Homo sapiens: one gene and its partner. The protein of the gene in region 1 binds, or shares a complex with, the protein of each later gene. Links are inferred from orthologs where the notes say so. Each region holds a gene or a part of one and is shown in the gene's direction. Other genes may lie near its edges. The genes, in order: APBB1IP and TLN1.

Region 1 (10,769 bases):
TGGCTCTTATATCTCCCCCATCTAGATAAGGATGATATTGATTAACTTGCATAACTTCTCCCTGGACTTCAGATAACGTCAGTAAAGTGAGATGATTGGGCTACATTATGTCTGTTCTTAAAATAGCAATTGAGGAGTTGCTATAATTCTTTGAATTGGTCCCAACTGGAATACTGGCAACATTATATCAACATTAGAATTGCTGATCACAAATTTTTTAAAAATGGAGAAAATAATCATAACCATAACAGATTACATTCTGAAATATCAATATCTTTGAGGTCTTTTGTTTCTGAGAAGTTCCTGTAAAAGCGCAGTCAATATCTGGCCTATATGTAAAAAGGCAAATTTCCATCTTATTTGAAAACTGAGATAAGAAACAGCCCAAACTTGAACAGGTCAATATTATATTTTGAAATCTTTAAATTGCTATTTCTCAAGAAATATAACTTTGTAATATGAATTACTTTATGGCATTACTTTAAATCTTAAACACAATACTAGGTTTTATAGTATTTATTACATTTTTTGTATTTTTATATCCTAAGAATGTTCACCAGTTATCCACTATTGATTTGCCTTTTTTCACTCATCAATCAAAGTTTTAAATAGTTCCATATTATTATTAGAATGAGCTACTTATAAAGTTCATTGCCATAAATGTCTGTTTGATATGTCACTTTGAATTTTCTTTAAGCCATCTTACTTCCAAAGAGCATTATTATTTTCATTTTCTTCTAATTCTCTTCAATTTTATTTTAATTATTTTTATGCCTAAAACATTTTAGTGAGTCCACAAATCTTATAATAAATTGTCTGCGTTCCATAGCCTATTGGACCACAATCTTTACAATTTTATAGGACCCCATGAGTTTATATTATGGAGACTACGGTGATCTTAGGAATGCTTGCCTCAAAACAGAACAATTTTTATTAACACAACAGGTATCTTCTCAGTATGAAAATGAATGTGTGTGTTTTATGTCACTGCTGTCATCTAAGAGGCAAGTCACTTAAAGCTTAAGCATTTATTATAAATTCATGTACATAATAAATGCCAGATTTTAAAGTGTAAGATTTCTACACTGGTTGCATGGGGATTTTAAAATACATATTACACTTTTAATTATCGTGAGAAACATGACTTTTAGAGAAAACTGCTAGATATCTGGAACAGTAATCATTAGATTTCTCTTGAAAAGAGAGAACTAGCCGCATGAAGGAATGCCATTACACCTATACCCAGTTAAAGAGACTAGATTGTACCTGCAGCTTGGAAGGGCAGACCCTGAGGACAGCTTTTGGGGGACTAGAGGATGTGACCTGCCACCACTGCATCATCATTTCCTAGCCAATTTGTGATCCCAAAATGAGGACTCCAAAGAGGCTGGCTAAATGTGCAGAATATATTAATCTCACTGAGTGGTACCATGGAAATATCACAAGCCCCTGAGATCCCGTTGGCTCCACTGGTCCCAAACCTCAGGCATGAGCAAGCAGAGAGGTGACACCACTCCAAGGCATCACACGTTCTCATTATTCCACATATTCTGGAGCTTGATTCCGTGACTCAGTTTTAAAACATTTCCTGAGCGTTGACCATGAACTTGAATAATTAAGAATCATAAGAGCTATTTTCTTTCTTCTCTGTCAACTCAGTTTTCTCTTTGATCATCACATAGTAATAGCAAATAATAATTATTATAATGTTTACTTATAAATACTACCAGGCCCTGTACTAATTTAGATGTGTCATCTTGTTAATCATCACATCAAGATGAAAGCACAGAGAGGGTAAGAAACTTACGCAGGAAGTAAGAAACAGAGCTGTTGTTTGAACTGGGCCATCTGATGGTGGCACCCATGAAAAAACCTGGGGCCTTTCCACAATGAGTTTATAGTCTAGAAGAGGAGATGTAACTAGATGTAAGAGGAGATGTAGAATTCCATGCGGAACCAGAGTTGAGTGCTGTGGGACTACATATCAGGGTCCCTGGTCTCCCCAACCAGGGTCACGGGAGAAGGTTGAATAGAAGGAAACCAAGCAAAGAACTTATCGTGTTATCATGGGAAGACAAGTTAATATAATCAACTTTGAAGTTATTATCTTTACGTGTGCCTTGAAAAAAGAATCTGCTTTGTTAGCAATCGTGTGTTTTCATTTTTGTGTTTATTTTATTCTAATCCCACATGACAGCCGGCTAGGTTGATTAAATCAACAAGCAAGCAGTGAGTTTAATATTTTTTCTAATTCTGTTGGGGATCTTTTTGATTTAGTTTCATGTTACAGACTCATCAGTGAGATGGTTGTGGGCTGGGATGGGGGATAAAAGCTAAATCACACAGCAACTGTGTTTCCCCAAACCGACTGGAGGGTTTGCATCCAGAGAGCTACATCACATCAAACTGGAGAGAAACAAAAAATGATATTAGAGCAAGTGAATCATGACTAGATTCATTTCTTCCTTCATGTTTTATTATGAAATGTTTCATATCTACAAAAGATGATGTATATATGTAAATAACAACAAATAATAATAAAGCCAACATCTGGGTACCTATCACCCAGCTTAAGAAGTAGAATATTTACCAAGACATTTCCTGGTCTCCTTCCAATAACATTTCCCCATTTCCCAGCTAGAGGTAATCATTATTCTGAATGTGCTAATTTTTAAAAAGCTTTTAGGAAGCATGTACATACATTTGTAAAGGATGGTGTCAAACTGGGGATCAAAGAACACTGGCATGGCAGACTGGAGTCAGGTTCTCCACCGACTCTGGGTGGTCACAAGCAGCTTGTGCTGTTCAGTAAAGACAGCTTACTTTAATTGAATAGCATAAAAACAACATGTATTAGAAATAGTTAATAGTAAGTACCACGGAAATTGTGCTATCTTAGACATTGATAAAGTGACCAAGAATCATCAGTAAAGAACTATGAGTTTTAAGTGGAATAAAGAATATGTGGCCGGGCGTGGTGGCTCACACTGGTAACCCCAGCACTTTGGGAGGCTGAGGCAGGAGGATCACTTGAGGTCAGGAGTTCAAGACCAGCCTGACCAACATGGTGAAACACTGTCTTTACTAAAAATACAAAAAAATTAGCCTGGCATGGTGGTGCATGCCTGTAATCCCAGCCACTCGGGAGGCTGAGGCAGGAGAATCGCTTGAACCCAGGAGGTGGAGGTTGCAGTGAGCCAAAATCATGCCATTGCACTCCAGCTTGGGCAACTCTATCTCAAAAAAAAAAGTTTCAAGAGCGAAACTCCATCTCAAAAAAAAAAAATTACTTATATGAGGAAAATAAATAAAGGAGGCAAAAGAAAAAAAGAATATGTAACTTAGGAAGTCATCTCCACTTTATTTATTTATTCATTCATTCATTCATTTTTGAGACAGGGTGCAGGCTGGAGTGCAGCAGCACAATTAAGGCTCACTGTAGCCTCAACCTCCTGGGCTCAAGCAATCCTCCTGCCTCAGCCTCTCATGTAGCTGGGATCACAGGTGTGCGTCACCATGCCCAGCTAATTAAAAAAAAAATTTTGTAGAGACAGGGTCTCATTTTGTTGCCCAGGCTGGTCTCGACCTCCTGGGCTCAAGTGATCCTTCCACCTCGGGCTCTCAAAGTCTTGGGATCACAGACATGAGCCACTGTGCCCGGCCAGATCTCCAGTTTAAATACAATTCAATCATTTTCAGTCAAAAATGTTTGCTAAGCACTATTATAGACGCAAGGAATGTCAGTGAACAAAAGAGACAAAGATCCCTGCATTTGTGGAGTTTATTCTGGTGGACAGATACAGATGCTACTCAATAAGCATAATAAATAAGTAAATAATATAGGTATTAGTAAGCGAAAAGCAAGGTGAAGTTGCAATATGCGATAAGGTGGTCAGGCTGGGCCCTTTCGTTTGCAGGAGACAATGGAGTTAACCAAGTGGCTATCTGGGGGAACAGTGTTCCAAGCACAGGGAACAGTCGAGGCTGTAGGGCAGGGGCATGTCTGTGGATTTGAGAAGCAACAAGAAGGCCCCTGTAGTTAGAGGTAAATGAGCAAGGGAGAGAGAAACAGATGTGGTTGGAGAAGTATGAGAAGGGCGAGGAGATAGCAGATCACGTGGGGTTCCAGAGGCCATTATAAAACTTTGACTTTCACACCGAGCAAAATGGAGGGGCCATTGCAGGATTCTGAGAAGGCGAATAACATGATCTGACTTAAGGCTCACTCTGACTGCTTGAGAATAAACCTGGGGGAGCAGAGGTGAAAGCAAGGAACCCATGACAAAGCGTTGGATTCTGCGTATATTTTGAAGGAGAGCCAAGATTTCCCGACAGAAGGAATGTGGGGTGTTTGAGAAAGAGGAGTCAAGGATGACTTCAAAGTCTGTGGCCTAAACAACTGGAAGGATGAAATTGTCATCAACTAAAGTCAGCAAGTTGGAAGGGAGATGATTAGAAGTTCAATTTTGGATGTAGATATGAAGTATCATTTGGGAATACTGATGTGCTTATTATATATAAGGCTAAAAGCAGGGTAACCATTTGGGAAGATACTGTTATTGCTCCTATTTTGCAAATTAGAAATGACAGGTAAGGGAGTTTAGGAAATTTGCCCAAGGCTACACAGTTTAAGAAATGGGACATAGGCTGCGTGGTGGCTCACGCCTGTAATCCCAAACACTTTGGGAGGCTGAGATGGGTGGATCATGAGGTCAAGAGATCAAGACCATCCTGGCCAACATGGTGAAACCCTGTCTCTGCTAAAAATACAAAAATTAGCTGGGCATGGTGGTGCACGCCTGTAGTCCCAGCTATTCGGGAGGCTGAGGCAGGAGAATCGCTTGAACCCAGGAGGTGGAGATTTCAGTGAGCCAAGATCATGCCACTGCACTCCAGCCTGGTGACAGAGTGAGATTCTGTCAAAAAAAAAAAAGAGGAAAAGAAAGAAAGAAAGAAAAGAAAGAAAGAAAGAAAGAAAGAAAGAAAGAAAGAAAGAAAGAAAGAAAGAAAGAAAGAAAGAAAAGGGGACATAAAACAAAGTCTTTGCAATCCTAAAACCTTTAATTAAACTTTCAAAACTTTGAGAAGGAGTTGATCCAAAATCTTTATTAGGTAGCTAAAATAAGAATATAGTTAGCTAATCAGCAATTTTCTACCTCCATAATAATCAAAACAATGGAAATTATTTTTGAGAAGTGGAAAGCAAGAAATGAATACTTAAAAGCCCCATCCATAAATTCTTTTTTTAATTGTTCTTAATAGAGATAGGGTCTTGCTGTGTTGCCCAGGCTGGTCTCAAACTCCTGGGCTCAAGTATCCTCCCGCTTCGGCCTCCTAAAGGGCTGGGCTGGGATTACAGGCATAGGCCACTATGCCTGGCCACGTAAATTCTTAACCCATGATGTAGACTTTATGCAATACAAGGCTTCCAAGACTGTGCAGTTTAAAAACAAGATTCTGCGGAAGTTAGGACAGAGACCTTTCCCACAAAGAAGTTTTTTGTGCCCGGAGGTTTCAAATGTTTAGAATTTCAAAATCCAAACCAGATTTGGAAGATAGGAATGTTTGCCCCTTACACAACTGGATTTCAAATGGATTCAAGTGTTAGAGCAGGGCTAAAAATTCTCTAGGAGCTGTTGAAGAATGCTGGACAACACTGTTAAGATATTTGGAGAGCTGAAAGTGGTTAAGAAGTAATTACTAACAGTGATCGAGATAAGTGACATTTCATTTGTCTTAGTTATTAACTGCTATCAAGCCAGGGTAATAACGAAATAGTAATATTCAGTAGAATGCTGCTAAAAGGTATTCATTACCACCTAGTAGAACTGTGTTTTCCACGGGGCAGAAGTTCAGTCTTTCAAGTGTGTTTGTAGGATTTCACCTCAGAAAGAAAAGAACAAATTAGTTATGTGGGGCAGAAGCGGGGAATCCCACAAAATCTTTTTCAGGTGATTTCACATCATATTATAGTGTATTATCACAATTAGGTTACTGATTAAGTAAATTTACCTATGGCCACTGTTTTTATAGCATTAACAAATTCATGCATCTCTGTTGATCACATAACATTCACAGGTGACAGTTAGGGCAATGAACTCATTAGGTTTTGGATACAGTATTGTTTTCCTTTTAAGATAATGGCTTCCTTCTGATTAAATTTCATAAACGGTATGGCTTAGCAAACCAAGACTATTTCTTCATGTGTTTACTCATTCTGTGGCATTATATTTCCCTTGTTGTAAGCAACACACAGAAATGAAGCTGCTTGGGCCATGAATGTCGGTAAGTGCTATGCAGTGTGGTGAAAAGATGGCCGGCCGTGAGACCACTGCAGAATGCCCAAGCTAAAATGAACAGTACTCACTGTTCCTCAAGGCTGGGTTTACAGATTGGGCTACAGTACTGAAACACACACTTCAGCTGAATCAGACTCTGCTCAATGTAATATAATTGGAACTTTTTTTCCAGTTTCACCACACGTCTATTGATGGCCAACCCCATGCCAGTGTAGGGGGCACGTGTAGCTAAAATAGGATAAGATATGGTCCCCTGCCCAGCATGGTGGGTCACACCTATAGTCCCAGCTACGTGGGAGGCTGAGATAGGAGGACTGCTTGAGGCTGCAGTGAACTATGATCACGCCACTGCACTCCAGCTTGGGTGACAGAGCAAAACCTGTAGATAGATAGATAGATAGAGAGAGAGATAGATAGAAATAGATAGATATGGTCCCTACCCTCAAGAAGCTTCCAGTCTAGTGGGAAAGACAGGCATGTAAAAAAAATACATTACAGTGCAGAATGTGCAATGTTTGATACAGAAATAATATGGTGCAGATAATGATTATAGGACAGATATTATGGGGGGATGATCAAGAGGTGCTTTGAAGGAGAAAGGTATAGAAATGCCTTTCTAGGAGGGGTGTGGTGGCTCATGCCTGTAATCCCAGCACTTTGGGAGGCTGAGGAGGGCAGATCACGAGGTCAGGAGATCGAGACCATCCTGGCTAATACAGTGAAACCCCATCTCTACTAAAAAAGTACAAAAAATTAGCCAGGCATGGTGGTGGGTGCCTGTAGTCCCAGCTACTCGGGAGGCTGAGGCAGGAGAGTGGCATGAACCCAGGAAGCGGAGTTTGCAGTGAGCCGAGATCGCGCCACTGCACTCCAGCCTGGGTGACAGAGTGAGACTCCGTCTCAAAAAAAAAAAAAAAAAAAAAAGAAATGCCTTTCTATACCTTGTGGCCAAATGGAAGAAAGATACGCCAGGCACCAGATGTGTAAAACACTTTAGCAGTGCTGAAGCATAAAATGCAGTGGGAAAGGAAATGGGGAGAATCTAATGTAACATAGAATGAGTAATATTCAGATTACATTAATGTGATGTGGTCCCTGCAACCCAACATATTTGAGTCAAATACTGAGGCGCTTGCAATAACAGAACTGTAGCACTCTGGAGCAGAGCTGTCCAGTAGAACTACAAAGCAAATTACATGTTTAACTTTAAATTTCCTTGGTGCCACATTAGAAACAGTAAAAAGAACCATGACTTTTCTTTTTTTTGAGGGAGGGCCTCACTCTGTCACCCAAGCAAGAGTGCAGTGGCATGATCACAGCCACTCCCATCCCATTTTTTTATTTTTTTGAGAAACGAGGCACTATATTGCCCTGGCTGGTCTTGAACTCTTGGGCTCAAGCAATCCTTCCACCTCGGCCTCCCAAAGTGCCGGGATTATAGGTGTAAGCCACTGTGCCCAACTGTGATGTTAATTTTAATCACTTATTTTATTAAATGATATATCCAAAAATGATAATAGCACTCTGGATCAAATGATTATTTTTGGATATTTCATTTAATAAAATAAACTATTAAAATGTGAATTGTTTGAAGTTATATTAAATTTAATGTTTGAAATTATATTTAACAGTAAAAATCAAGTGACATAAATTTTTACTAAAAATTTTAAAAATAATATATTAATTTTGATATAATTGAAATTATGTTACATTTAAGTAATAGTAAGATTATTTCATTTTTTTAATTTTTGTAGAGATGAGGGTCTCACCATGTTGCCCAGGCTGGTCTCACATTTCTGGCCTCAAGTGATCTTCCCACTTCAGCCTCCCAAAGCACTGGGATTATAGGCATCCTGCCAGTAATAGTAAAATTATTAATGAGCTATTTTATTCCATTTTTTAATACTAAGTCTTGCAAATCCAGTGTGTTTTCACACTTACTGCACATCTCATTTCAGACTAGCCACAGTTAAAGTGCTAAATGGCCTCATGTGGCTAGTGGCTGAATTGGGCAGTGCAGATTGAGATAAATTCACAAATATTGCATCCTATACTATGTGTTGACTATGCAACTGAAAGGAGGATATTAGGTGAATTCTAAAGTATTCAGAATTTTTTAGGGTAAAGGAAGTAAACAGCATTTGCAATTACTTTGGGGCCTGTCCCTACAATCTGATTTTAATTCATCTTTAAACCTACACCCAGAATGCATTATTTGCCCTCTAGTAACAAAACAACCTCAGATAGTCATTTGCTTGCTTTCCTTTTTATCCTCTTTCTCCCCCAACTCCCCACCACCTTATATATTATGGATTCTGCCTAAAAGTAAGAAGGACTGAAAAAGAACTGGAAACAAATGGCGAAGCAGGATGCCCTCAACCCACATCCGGCAAAATGTGATCTGTTGCCCTAGGCAACCATGGTGGTCAACTCTTCTGTTTTCTTTTTTTTGCTTCCACCTGCTAGTTCACAAGCATAACACTCTCATCGACAGCCACTCTCTTTGTGGCGGTTCTCAGCTCCAAAAATACGCCTGTCTTTCAGGGGAGGGCAGTAGTGCTAAGATTTGGAAAATGGGTTGGAGATGCGTAGGATATGACTCAAAAAAGACTCAAGGAGATTCCAGTGCAGTTCTTTCCTTGTTAAGAATGGTTACGGATCCCTGTTCTAGAAACTATACTTACAGATGTCCTTCCAGTGGCTTAGTCTTTTAAAAGCGTGCCTGACCTACAAAGAAAAATGGCAGTTTAACTCAGTCTCCAGGTGCATGAAGATGCAACAGACAGAAGTAACCATCCCCTTGTGGACTTGGGTGTGTGTTTATGTTTGTGTGTGTATATCTGTGTGTGTGTGAAAGAGAGAGAGAATAAATGACTGACACTTTTTTTTTCCACTGCTGGTTTTAGAGGGAAAACACAATAATAAAAATGATGATGATGATGAGGATGATAGAAATAATAGCTGATATTAAGCACTTCATATGCACCAGGCATTATAATGAGTACATTACAAGCACTAACTACCTCATCCCTATGAAGCAGGAACTGTTGTTTTGTTTTGTGTGTGTGTCTGTGTGAGCCTTTAGTTTCTTTCTAAATTCCAGTTGAATAGAAGTATTGGCATTTGTTTCAAGGGGATATCATCTTGATTGACTAAAAGTGTTCCAGGTATCAAATCATTACTGCCAATGTGATTCCATATTCTCCAATATAGTTGTCAAATTTTCTCATCAGAACCCACTCAAAGGTGCTTGAAGTCCAGGCACTGTGGTTTATGCCTGTAAACGCAACTCTTTGGGAGGCTGAGGCAGGAGGATCCCTTGATCCCATGAGTTGGAGACCAGCTTGGGCAATACAATGAGACCCTGTCTCTACAAAAAAATGAAAAAGCCAGACATGGTGGCATTCTCCTGTGGTCTCAGCTACTTGGGAGGCTGAAGCAGGAGGATTAATTGAGCCCAGGAAGTCGAGCTGCAGAGAGCCATGATCGTGCCACTATACTCCAACCTGGGTGACAGAGCAAGACCCTGTCTTAAAAAAAAAAGTGCTTGAGTATCAGCAACATCCTGTCAGAAATGGTAGTATGGAAAGTAAAATTATGGAGAATGGTTTACAGCATCTCAGAGAAGGGTATAAGAGGGCAAAGGGGGTTGTGTTAAACGCTGGGCAGTTTTGCAGTGGATCAAACACGGGCATTGGAATTGGCATTATATTTATTGGAAGGCTTATAAATACTCAGCCATTAAATGCGTCTGTACATGCAAAGCACTTAGAATAATGCCTGGCATGTAGCATGCGCTCAAAAATCAAATATCTTGTTTCAAACATTTAGAACAAAACAAAATTAAATCCCCCCTAGAAGTTACCATTGAAAACAACTCAAGTATTATCTCCTTGTATTTTGACATTTTGAAAAGAACTCAAGTATTATCTCCTTGTATTTTGACATTTGAAATAAGCCTTTGTTATCCACATGCCTCTAAGGGCATGAAACATTGTAGATTAAACACAATTTCACAGCCACTGTGTTTTAGTCAAATAGTCCATAGGTAGATGATAAGAGTATACACTAATATTTTTATTCTTTTCTTTATTCTTCTCCTTCTCTTTGTTAAGCAGTTTTGGACAATTACTCTTTGTGGAACACTCCACTATGGCTGTGGAAAACTAGTAAATGTAAAGTTGTTCCCTGACCCCTGCCCTCCTGGAACTCAGATTCTTTTTTTTTTTTTTTTGACACTGAGTACTGAGTCTCACTTTGTCTCCCAGGCTGGAGTACAATGGCTCAATCTAAGCTCACTGCAACCTCTGCCTCCTGGGTTCAAGCGATTCTCATGCCTCAGCCTCCCAAGTAGCTGGGACTACAGGCATGTGCCACCACAGCTGGTTAATTTTTGTATTTTTAGTAGAGACAAGGTATCACTATATTGGTCAGGCTGGTCTCGAACTCCTGACCTCAGGAGATCCACCC
Region 2 (10,769 bases), on another chromosome or scaffold:
CTTATCACCATCACCTGACTTCATGGACATCCCACGCTTTCCCCAGTCAGAACCCCAACCTACCTCAGAAAGCGGCAGCGCCCAGTCCAGTGGGGCCCTCACGGCCTCATCGGGTGCCGTCCCCAAATCTCCACTTTCCTCTAGCAGGAAGGCCAGCAGGTCTTGGTCACCAGCATCCAATTCCAGCTCCATTTGGGACAACTACGGAAAGGGTGGGCCACCGGGCCCCAACGTCCGAAGCCCAGACACGAGCCCCAGGCCAGCTGTAGGCCTCGGGCACCTATCCACTGTCCCTCTACGGCCGGGATTCCCCGCCGGCGGCTTTCCATAGCCCTCTCCGGACCCGCCTCCCAGGCTCAATTCTCCTCAGCCTCCAACGCAGCGAAAGTGACGCACCCCACCCCGTGGCACTGTGGGACTTGGAGTTCCCTCCAACTGAGAAGAGGCTTGGGTGCAGCGCCACGTCCCAGGGGCTATGCAAATGTAGGGGACGGCCCTGCTGCCGCCTCGCACCCCGAGGGCGGGGGTTCCGGGGCTCCGGCTCCGCCTTCTACCCCAAGCTAGAAAAAGGAAGAGTTCTAGCCTGAAAGGGAACTCGGGCGTCGTCCTGGCGTCCTCTCCGGATTGCGCCGCACCCTCGCTTCCTGCCAGGGAGGGGCTGCCGGGCTTTGGCGGCTCCCGAGCATCGAGAACGGGGCCAGAGCAGCTTCCTGCCTGCCCCCCGCGACCATAGAGCGCGGGCCCAGGGCGCCGCCCGCGGGTGGGGGACGTTCCCAGGACGGAAGTGGCCGAGAGAGTGTCGAAGGGAGGGCGAGGCCGGAGCCCGAGGGCGACCCGAGAAGCGGCGGGGCGGCGGGCCGGCGGGCGGGGCGCAGAGCCAGGCAGCGCAGGTAGGCCAGACCGGGCCGGGCGGGGGCCTTAGGGTGGGGCCGCGGGGCCTGGCCCCGGGGCGGGCGGGCCCTGCCTCTCTTGCGTGTCCGGTTCGGGTCCTATTAGTTGGAGAGGTCAGCGTCCAGCGCATCTCGGCTTGAGCTCGGCGTGAAGTAGGCCGTCTTGGGGAAGACAGGCCTTTCCTGGGAGCAGTCCTATGTCTGGGATAGGCTTTGGGGAGCGTGAGGAGTCGGGTGGCAGCGGGGCGCAGGGCGGGGACGGGCTTTGGTGTTAGCTGATAGCGGGCATGTGGGTAGGAAAGCTTTGGGTGAGTTGGGGATTAGGTGGGGTCCGTTTAGGAATCAAGGGTCGCTATAGGAGTTAAAAGCTGGGGTTAAAACTTAAGAGTTAGTGTGAGTCAGGTCCGTTTTAGATAGGTAAGGTTTAGATTACGGTCATTATCTTGTTTGCTGGGATGGCCATCATACGTCATAATTTGAGTTCAGGGTCAGGTTAAGGGTCAACAAACAACAGGAATCAGGTTAGAGCTTGTTTGAGGGATTAAAGAATGTTGGCATGGTCGGTGTTAAGGATAAACAGTGAAAGCGTGAGTTAGGAATCAAATTATAAATGAACTTTAGGCTTAGGGGTCAACATTTAGGGTTAACATCAGGGGATTTGGTGCTAAAGGCAAAACTTAGATCAGTTTCAGGGATCAGGGATTGGATATGAGTCTGTGCTAGGAAAGGGATGAATGTCCAAGCCGGTACTGGGAATCAGGAAACAAATTAGAGGTGGGGTTAATGTTAGGAATTTGGGGCAGCTTTAGGGGTTGTGGTTTGAGGCTAGCATAGTTGACCTTGAGCAGATAAAATTTAAGAGGTTGGCAGTAGGTAAATGCCCTTCTTTTGTAGGGAAATCCTTTATTCCTATGTAGTTACAGGGGCTTCTTTTTACCCAGAGAGATAAACTAATTTCAGGCTAGCGTTCTGGCTTTAGCTAGAATTGCAGGCATCTGGGATTCCAGCTTCTTTATTCCATTCTCTAAGCCCAAGGCCCTTGCTGTGGCCACCACAGTTAGGGGACAGAGATTCTGGACTGTGTTGTTTACAGACAACATAGGTGGGAAATAGGGACCCAGGATGTACAAGGCCTAGTCACAAGTTGGGGACTGCCTAGGGAAGAAGGAGCTGATGACTATGGGGGAAGCTAACCAAGGAATCACTGTTGCCATGGGAGAAGGGAATAACTGAATCCCCTGAAAGTTTAGCCCTGCTTCTCCCACTTCACTTGTTCTCTTGGTATTAAGCCCTCCTCTCCAACTCTCATCCCTGACTCTGCATTTCACACCCATCCTGCCTATCCCCTTACAAAATACTTCCCTTGCCTTTAACTCTCCCATGCTCATCTTATCATCCGTTCCCATCCTTAGTTCTACCTCCCTCACCAACCTTTAATCCGCACATCCTACCTGAATTTACCCTCATCAAAACCTGAGCTTTCCCATCATTTTAAATTACTCTCCTACCATTTTCACCCAGTCATGTACCTACATTCCACCTGGTCATCTGCTGAATACCCTACTCCCATCCCCTGCTGTGTGTCACCCCCTGGATCTAAGCCTCTTTTAATTTCTTGGACCATTTGTAGATCCCCTTCCCCCACTCCCCAACAGAAAAGAGGAAACGAGACCCAAAGAGGAAACTGGGTCTTGCTGATCCCACGCCCAGCCAGGCCACTGACCACACCCCCACTTCACTCCCAGCCTGACCCTGCCACTGACCACAGCACTATCCTCTACTCAGCCTGACCCAGCCACTGGCTGTACCCCATCCCCCATCCCAGCTCCAGCTTTACTTAGACATTGCCAATGTCCCTTCACTTTCCCACCCCCACCCCAGTCTGATTTAGTGACTGACCACAGGCCCAGCTCTTCTCAACCTCCTATAGCCTGACCTGGCCTCTGACCTCACCCCATCATTCCCTGACTTAGCCACCATCCATGTAATCATTCCCCTTCCCCCAACCTGATGCAGTGACTGGTCATATATGTATCTTATGTATATGTATTTTTCCAAACACCATCATCACCAGCATTCTTTTTCTACACCCTGTCTTCTCATCCTTTTTCTACACCCTGTCTTCCCCATTCCCAGCCTGATGCAGTCACTAACCCAACCCCATCTGCCCCTAGTGGCTACTAATCATATACTCATACCCTTTTTCCCCACAGCCTAACCACATCCCGTAACCACAGCCTCATCCTCACATTCTCTGCCCAACCTGATCCTTTCCCCTCTTCCCAATTCGTCGCCTAAACTCAAGCTGCCCCAGCCGCTAAAGTGGCTGCTGATGATAGGAAGCTGTGGGACTCTAACCTGTCTACCTTAGTAGTTATTAGGTCCTGTCATTTCTACCTCCCCAAACTTGTTCTGAGTGACATCTTCCTCAATGCCATTCCAACTCCGGCTTCATTACCTTTAATTTGTACTAATACAGTGTCCTTCTAACTAATCTCCAAGGTAACTGCCAGAGTTATTTTTCTAAAATCCAGTTCCGGTTATGTCTCTTCTCTGCTCAAAGACTCCCTTGGCTTCCTTTTGTCCTCCAATAAGTAAAATTCCTCATACCCCTCTCCAGTCTTCCTCTGCCTTTCCATCCTAACCCTGACTTCCCCACCACTGCTCCCTTGCAGGTACCCCTGTGCTTCAACAGCCTGCCTGCTCACTTCCCTGAATGCTCCTCCACGATTTACTGCTTCTCCATCTTTGCTTATGCTATTTCTCTGCCTGGAGTGAAAACTACCCCTGACACATCTCCAGCTGGCTGGCGTAGTGGAGAAAGCTTGGGCTTTGCAGTCAGAAACCTGGGTTCGGATCCTGGCTTCACAACTTATTATTTGGAGAAGTATTTGAACAAGTATTTAACATCTTTGAGTCTGTTTTCTGATCTGTAAAAATGGAAATAATGACACCTACTGTAAGGATTAAATGAAATTATGTATACAATGCAAGTGACATAGTCAATAAATGGCAGATCACTATTGTTTTTTATTATCTCTATTTTTTAAAATTCTAGCTTCAAATGATACTTATCATGGAGACTTTTTGGTTCCCCTTCCCTGACCTAAAGGGATCTCTCTGAGCACACACCTTTTGGCTCTTACCACATCCTGCCCTCCGTTGTGATTCTGTACTTGGCTTATTCACTCATCTCGTGGACTGGGAGCCCTTTGAACTCAAAGGCTAGGTCTTACTGATCTTGGTCCCCAGCCACTGAAAGTTTGGCCCAGGGTCTTCCCCACAGCTGGCCCTCAAGGAATGCTTGCTGGGTGAATGGAGAATGTCTACATAATGGGAGGAGAGACACTGGGTGCCGGGTGTGCTTGTTATGGAGGTTATCTGTGCAAAAGCTGTGTGCATAGGATGGGCTCCCTAGGAGAAGATAATGCAGTCGTGATGGGATCTGTGTGGGGGCTGTGTGATTGAGATAATGTGTGTATAGAGAGAGTAAGGTAGCTTTGTGGGAAAGAGCTCTGCCTAGGCTGGGGTGCATCTGGGGAGAATGAGTGTGCATTTGAGTATGGAGGGGCTGTACCGGGGGAAGTTCTGTGCAGCCCTTCAGCTAGCTGCCCAGTCCAGCTCTAAATGAGTCTCCAGCAGCCTGAGGCCGGATATGTCAGTCTCACCCACAGCCCTCCCCCACTGCCAGCGGTTGCGGACTCAGAGGCCAAATTTGGTAACAGACTGAGTGTTACTCCCCCATCCCTCTTATATTCTGACTGTCTTAAGCTCTTTCCTTTTGTTCCTGTCTGTAACTCCCTATCTTTCTGCAATTCCCCTTGTGGGTATCTGCTCTGACTATATTCTCCAAGTACCCCAACTTTCTTAGCTCCAATACTCTTACATTCCATTCCTTGCTGGGATTTGACCTCCTGTCCTCCATTCCCCCCCTCCAATTGCCCAACTTCTTTGGAATGCATCGCAGGAATGTATTGAGGGAGGAGGAGTTCCCTGGGAGGGGGACACGGCAGTGGGGAGTTGCTGTTCCATCAAACACAATGGAAAAGGGAGCAAAGTTCTCAGGCCAAAGGAGGAATGAGCTAGCTTCTACTCATACTTGTAGCAGCCTTGTTCTTTGCCACCACCACCCACAATTCACTGATCAGTTCTTCGCGTCCACACACCCTCTTGTAGCTGTGTGAATATCCACTCTGGACCAGCTGGGGAGTAAGGGTAGGCATGACTCAGCTCCCTTATCGGGGTCTCACCAGAGGCTTCCGTGCTTGAGGAGGAAGGGGGTGTCTAAGTGTCCAGAGGAAATGGGGGGAGACATGCAGTTTCAGCTTAGTGTGAAGGGTCCTTTCAGTCCTGCTTCTTGGCTCCACAGACTCCTCCAGCTTCTCGGATCCACCAGCCCAGCCCTCATTCTTTCATGGTCAGCAACCCCATAGCCAGGTCTGTCCAGCTGGGACACAAGCGGATAGTAATAAGGTTGGGCAAAGTGCCCCAGGAGTGGGGAGGGGGCAGAGAGCTGGAACTGGGGAGACTGGGAGGGTCCTCTCTTATTGGGGAGTAAAGACAGAGAGCTGTGGTTCTTCTCTTTTGAGACTCTGGACTGCTTGTAAGGTCAGAAATGGTCTATCTGCCACTTGGTACCAGACCGCTGATCTAGACCATTTTCATACCTGCCTCCTGTCTCTTGTTTCTACTTAGATTTTCAATTCTCCTCATCCCATCTCTCCTAACTTCTTTACCCTCTACCCCTTCTTAACTTCCCTGGCTTTCAAATGCCTTCTGTATCCTAACACCCCCATCTCTGCTTTCCAGCCTTCCCCTCTCACCCTGCTTTTCCCCATTTGAGGCTTGTAGTTTGCCAGGAGGGGAATGGGCAGCTTGTATTTGCCCATTCTCTTAGTTAAGAGGCACCCAATCCCTGTACCAAGCAGGGGCACATCAGCAGCAGCCGGGCAGACTTGTCCTCTTGCAGCCTGTGCGCCACCTGCTGCCTCCAGTGCCTCCTCTAGCCTGCTGAGAGGGGGTGCCAGGAGGGTGGAAGAAGGTGGGGTAGGACTAGTATTCTGAGCTGCACTGAAAATACAGTCAGGGGAAGTGGGTGAGACAGAGCAGAATTCGAGACAGACTTGCTGAAGAGGAGAAAGCATGGGAGGAGTTGCAGGACTGAGTATTAACTTGATGACTTGGAACAAGCAAGGACTGAGTTACAGGGACTGGGTCCTTTCTCTGGCCTGTCTTGAAAATGTTTCCTGGCCTCCCAGAGTCTATTTCCCCTTCTCCAAAACACAAGAGTTGACCAGATAACTTCTGAGATAGATCCCTTTGAGTTAGAGAATCACATTTCTAGCTTGACTGCCTGGGAAGCCCAGTACAGGGCTAGGCTCCTTCAGAAGGCCCCCGCATCTCAGGTTAGAAAAAAGCTGGGGCAAGAGCGGACCCCTGAATGGCTTGAGCAACCAGTATTTGGTCTCCCTGCCAGGCTAGCTAGAGTTTGTTTGCAGGCTTCAAGAGCCTTAGGGAATTATAACATCTTCATTTTGCAGAGAAGGCAGCTAAAGCCATGAGAAGGAAGGTCACGTGGTGAGAAGAGAGCTCTGAAAATCCCGGACAGGGAAGAGCCAGCAGGACACAGCAGGAGACAAAGAGAGAAAAATACTGAACCAGGCAAAAATGAAAAGAAGGCAGGAGTAGGGCTGAGAAAGGTGATCAGGGACAAGGGGCAAGAGAGATACTTGGATGAAAGTAGGGAGGTACAAATTCCAGTGGTGGGGCAGGGCAGTGTCCTCAGGTAGCACTGCATTTCAGACCTGCTATTGTACCTTGCAGACCAGCTTCTCCTTTCCCTCAGATGTCTTAAATTGTTAGGACTTGGCCGGGCGTGGTGGCTCACGCCTGTAATCCCAGCACTTGGGGAGGCCAAGGTGGATCACGAGGTCAGGAGATCGAGACCATCCTGGCTAACATGGTGAAACCCCGTCTCTACTAAAAATACAAAAAATTAGCCAGGCATGGCAGCGGGCGCCTGTAGTCCCAGCTACTGGGGAGGCTGAGACAGGAGAATGGCGTGAATCCAGGAGGCGGAGCTTGCAGCGAGCTGAGATCGCACCACTGTACTCTAGCCTGGGCAACAGAACGAAACTCTGTCTCAAAAAAAAAAATTGTCAGGACTCATTCTTTTGATGTAAATAATTTTTCACTCTTTAAAATTATTAAATACAATGAAAACAACCTTATTACCATCTACTTTGGTGAGTCCCTTTCAAAAACACTCTTCCCTTGGACTCCACCATCTGGGGGGCCTCTTCTCCCACCAGAAGAGTGTATTCTAATGCCCTGATGCCATGGGTCAGGTATAGCCAGGCTGGAGAAAAGAAGCTGCCACCATGGTTGCACTTTCACTGAAGATCAGCATTGGGAATGTGGTGAAGACGATGCAGTTTGAGCCGTCTACCATGGTGTACGACGCCTGCCGCATCATTCGTGAGCGGATCCCAGAGGCCCCAGCTGGTCCTCGTGAGTCTGACTCCCCCGGTGGCTGGAGTGGGAGTCTTCAGTCCCTTCTTGTTCCCAGGCTCTCGGCCTTGAGAGTTGACCCCTTTGTCCCCTAAGACTACTCACCCCTCAGGTCTGTGTTCCATGGTTCCCTCGTTCTTTAGGCCCAAGGTCATGGGAGAAATAGTCAGGGGCAACATGGTACAAGCTGTTCAGCCACATTGGGGTCTTCATAAGCCTAAAGTGATCCATCCTCTCTTTTAGCCAGCGACTTTGGGCTCTTTCTGTCAGATGATGACCCCAAAAAGGGTATATGGCTGGAGGCTGGGAAAGCTTTGGACTACTACATGCTCCGAAATGGGGTAAGTATCCTTTCATCAAGGACCACCACATCCCCTTCCATCAGCTTCTCCCTGTTCCACCTCCTGTTTTCAGCACCCACATCTGTTGTCTCTTAGCCCTCCCCATGCTTTCTTCCTATTAACAGACAGTCATAATTCCCTGCTTTTGAACGAACCACCATAGTCTTCCTTTCAGTGCTCCACTCTCTCCCCTCGGGCTGTGTAAAGAGGAAATAATACCCCTAGCTCAGAGTAGGCCCCTGTCTCTTCTTCCTGCCCTAACAGGACACTATGGAGTACAGGAAGAAACAGAGACCCCTGAAGATCCGTATGCTGGATGGAACTGTGAAGACGATCATGGTGGATGACTCTAAGACTGTCACTGACATGCTCATGACCATCTGTGCCCGCATTGGTAAGGGGCCCTAGTACAGTTGAAAGCCTGGGCCAGAAAGCCTCAACTCTCTCAAAAGGCATGGATGCAGTACCTGGGAAGCTAACAAGCCATCTCCTTCCTCAGGCATCACCAATCATGATGAATATTCATTGGTTCGAGAGCTGATGGAAGAGAAAAAGGAGGAAATAACAGGGACCTTAAGAAAGGACAAGACATTGCTGCGAGATGAAAAGAAGATGGAGAAACTAAAGCAGAAATTGCACACAGATGATGAGTGTAAGCAGAACTAGAAAAAAGAGGGCTTTTGAAATGGGAAGGGTGGGAAGGGGCTTCAGCATCTGCTTCTGCCAGGCACTGTTTTACACCCTGGGGATACATCAGTGAGAAAACAAAGTCCTACACTCATGGGACTTACATTTAAGTGAGGGGAGGTAGGAAATGCAGAAATAAACAGAGACCAGACAGCACAGGGGCCATGGGGGTTTGGCACTGAGGGGACTGTCTGTATCCCAGTGAACTGGCTGGACCATGGTCGGACACTGAGGGAGCAGGGTGTAGAGGAGCACGAGACGCTGCTGCTGCGGAGGAAGTTCTTTTACTCAGACCAGAATGTGGATTCCCGGGACCCTGTACAGCTGAACCTCCTGTATGTGCAGGTATGCAGAGGACTTGGCTGGGGTGGGGCAGGAATAGGGAGGGCTCGGAAGCACAGTGTGCGTGTCCTTGCACCCACACACAACATTCGCCTCCTTGCCCTGTGCTCTCCAGGCACGAGATGACATCCTGAATGGCTCCCACCCTGTCTCCTTTGACAAGGCCTGTGAGTTTGCTGGCTTCCAATGCCAGATCCAGTTTGGGCCCCACAATGAGCAGAAGCACAAGGCTGGCTTCCTTGAGTGAGTGACCCACATCCTATACCCTGTCAGGGCCCAGGACTCCCTGCCATTGTGACCCCAGTGGGCCTGTCTCCATTCCAAGCCTGCCCCCCACTATTTCTTCTTCCGAGGTACCAGGGTTTGACCAACATAGCTACCCTTTTAGTTGCCATCATCCATTGTCTCTTCTCTGCCTCTGGAATATGAATGTAGTTCAGTATCTCTGCCCCTACCCCCATCTCTGAAGCAAGCATGTCACTCTTTTTTGAGATTATCTGAAGAATTTTGCTGCAGTAGCCAGAGGGAAACCGGGTAAAATTTTCCCTATAGGGAACATGGGTTAAAAGTCTCACAAGCCTCATCTGCTGGTGTTTCTTGGAATGCAGAGTTTGGCGTGGCTTTCTCAGCTTCCTAAGTGCATGTTCATCCTTCTAGAAAGCTCTTTCTCCTCTTGGTTCCCTGAAATGGTGCTCTAGACCCACTTTCCCTCAGGGACTGAGCCTCTAACTTAATTTTCCTCAGTCCCTTTCCCTACAGGGAGAGACACAGGTCACATTAAGAATTCATACTGGCCAGGCTCGGTGGCTCACACCTGTAATCCCAGCACTTTGGGAGGCCAGGGCGGGCAGATCACCTGAGGTCGGGAGTTCGAGACCAGCCTGACCAACGTGGAGAAACCATGTATCTCTACTAAAAATACAAAATTAGCCAGGCGTGGTGGCACATGCCTGTAATCCCAGCTACTCGGGAGGCTGAGGCAGGAGAATCACTTGAACCTGGGAGGTGGAGGTTTTGGTGAGCTGAGATCGTGCCATTGCACTCCAGCCTGGGCAACAAGAGTGAAACTCCATCTCAAAAAAAAAAAAGAAGAGTTTACACGAAGTCACCTCTATTTCAGAAGATAATCTAGACTCTATTCCCTCAGAGTCTTTTTTCTCCCCAAAGATAACACTGTCCTAGGTATTTCCTCATACCCCCAGGCCCACAGTTCATGGCCCACATGTCCCCTGATGCTGTCTACCACATGCTGACCCTCCCTTTTCTGGTGTAGCCTGAAGGACTTCCTGCCCAAGGAGTATGTGAAGCAGAAGGGAGAGCGTAAGATCTTCCAGGTGAATGTGGGTAGGGGAAAGTATTTGGGATGACCGCGGAGCTTTGCTGCTTAATCTTACTGACTAAATGGCCCCCTGCCTCCTCCCCGTCTCCCCTAACTTGGCTTTCACCCACCGGGCTGTTATCCCACCTCACCTCTGCCAAGAAAGCAGACAGCTTGGGCTTTTAGTCTCAGCTCCATCCCTGCTTTTGCTGTGCAATTCAGTTCAATATTCTTGTAATCTTTTATTTACCTCTGATTTGGGATAACAGTACTTGCCCCGTGTAGGACTGATAGGATCAAATGAGGTAGCATAATCTGAAATTACTGTGAAAGAGTATAGTCTTTGTCCACTATAAGGTGTTACCCCCACTCTGAATACTCAGCCCAGAAGGCCTTCTCTTTGCCCTTCTACTTCCAAACTCTCTGTTCATATCTCCAGAATGTCTGCAAGTTCCTTGACTGTATCCCTTGACTCATCGCTTCTGCATAGCCCTTATCAGCCTCCATCCCGTTACCCTCTCGTTCTCATATCTTGTACTCCTCAACCTTTCCAGTGTCCCCATAATTCTCTCTCGTTAGAGTTAGCATCCAACCTTAATTCCTTAGCTGTGATATGAAACTCTTTGCTAAATTCTTCCCCATTTTATGCACAGGCACACAAGAATTGTGGGCAGATGAGTG

Evidence for each region.
Region 2: the proteins of APBB1IP (region 1) and TLN1 are in contact, whole or in part, in a crystal structure (PDB 4W8P), measured with the Mus musculus proteins. The link is inferred for Homo sapiens from one-to-one orthologs. Residues at the interface, in NP_062329.2 of Mus musculus: Asn5, Ile8, Asp9, Met11, Phe12, Thr14, Leu15, Glu18, Met19, Leu21, Leu22, Ser25; in NP_035732.2 of Mus musculus: Leu1492, Ala1495, Thr1496, Val1498, Ala1499, Thr1502, Ser1503, Cys1506, Asn1507, Arg1510, Val1526, Ala1529, Lys1530, Ala1533, Asn1534, Thr1536, Ala1537, Val1540, Ile1543, Lys1544, Asp1547.

Annotation. Positions count from the first base shown.
Region 1 is NC_000010.11:26,440,174-26,450,942, forward strand, and holds part of APBB1IP (amyloid beta A4 precursor protein-binding family B member 1-interacting protein), read left to right. Parts: intron 1-10,769. UniProt on the Homo sapiens protein: Appears to function in the signal transduction from Ras activation to actin cytoskeletal remodeling. Suppresses insulin-induced promoter activities through AP1 and SRE. Mediates Rap1-induced adhesion.
Region 2 is NC_000009.12:35,722,196-35,732,964, reverse strand, and holds the start of TLN1 (talin-1), read left to right. Parts: upstream 1-769; 5' UTR 770-890; intron 891-7,237; 5' UTR 7,238-7,270; coding exon 7,271-7,400; intron 7,401-7,643; coding exon 7,644-7,741; intron 7,742-8,005; coding exon 8,006-8,135; intron 8,136-8,240; coding exon 8,241-8,393; intron 8,394-8,630; coding exon 8,631-8,773; intron 8,774-8,885; coding exon 8,886-9,013; intron 9,014-10,043; coding exon 10,044-10,104; intron 10,105-10,741; coding exon 10,742-10,769. Other genes in the region: CREB3 (cyclic AMP-responsive element-binding protein 3), read right to left, coding at 64-192. UniProt on the Homo sapiens protein: High molecular weight cytoskeletal protein concentrated at regions of cell-matrix and cell-cell contacts. Involved in connections of major cytoskeletal structures to the plasma membrane.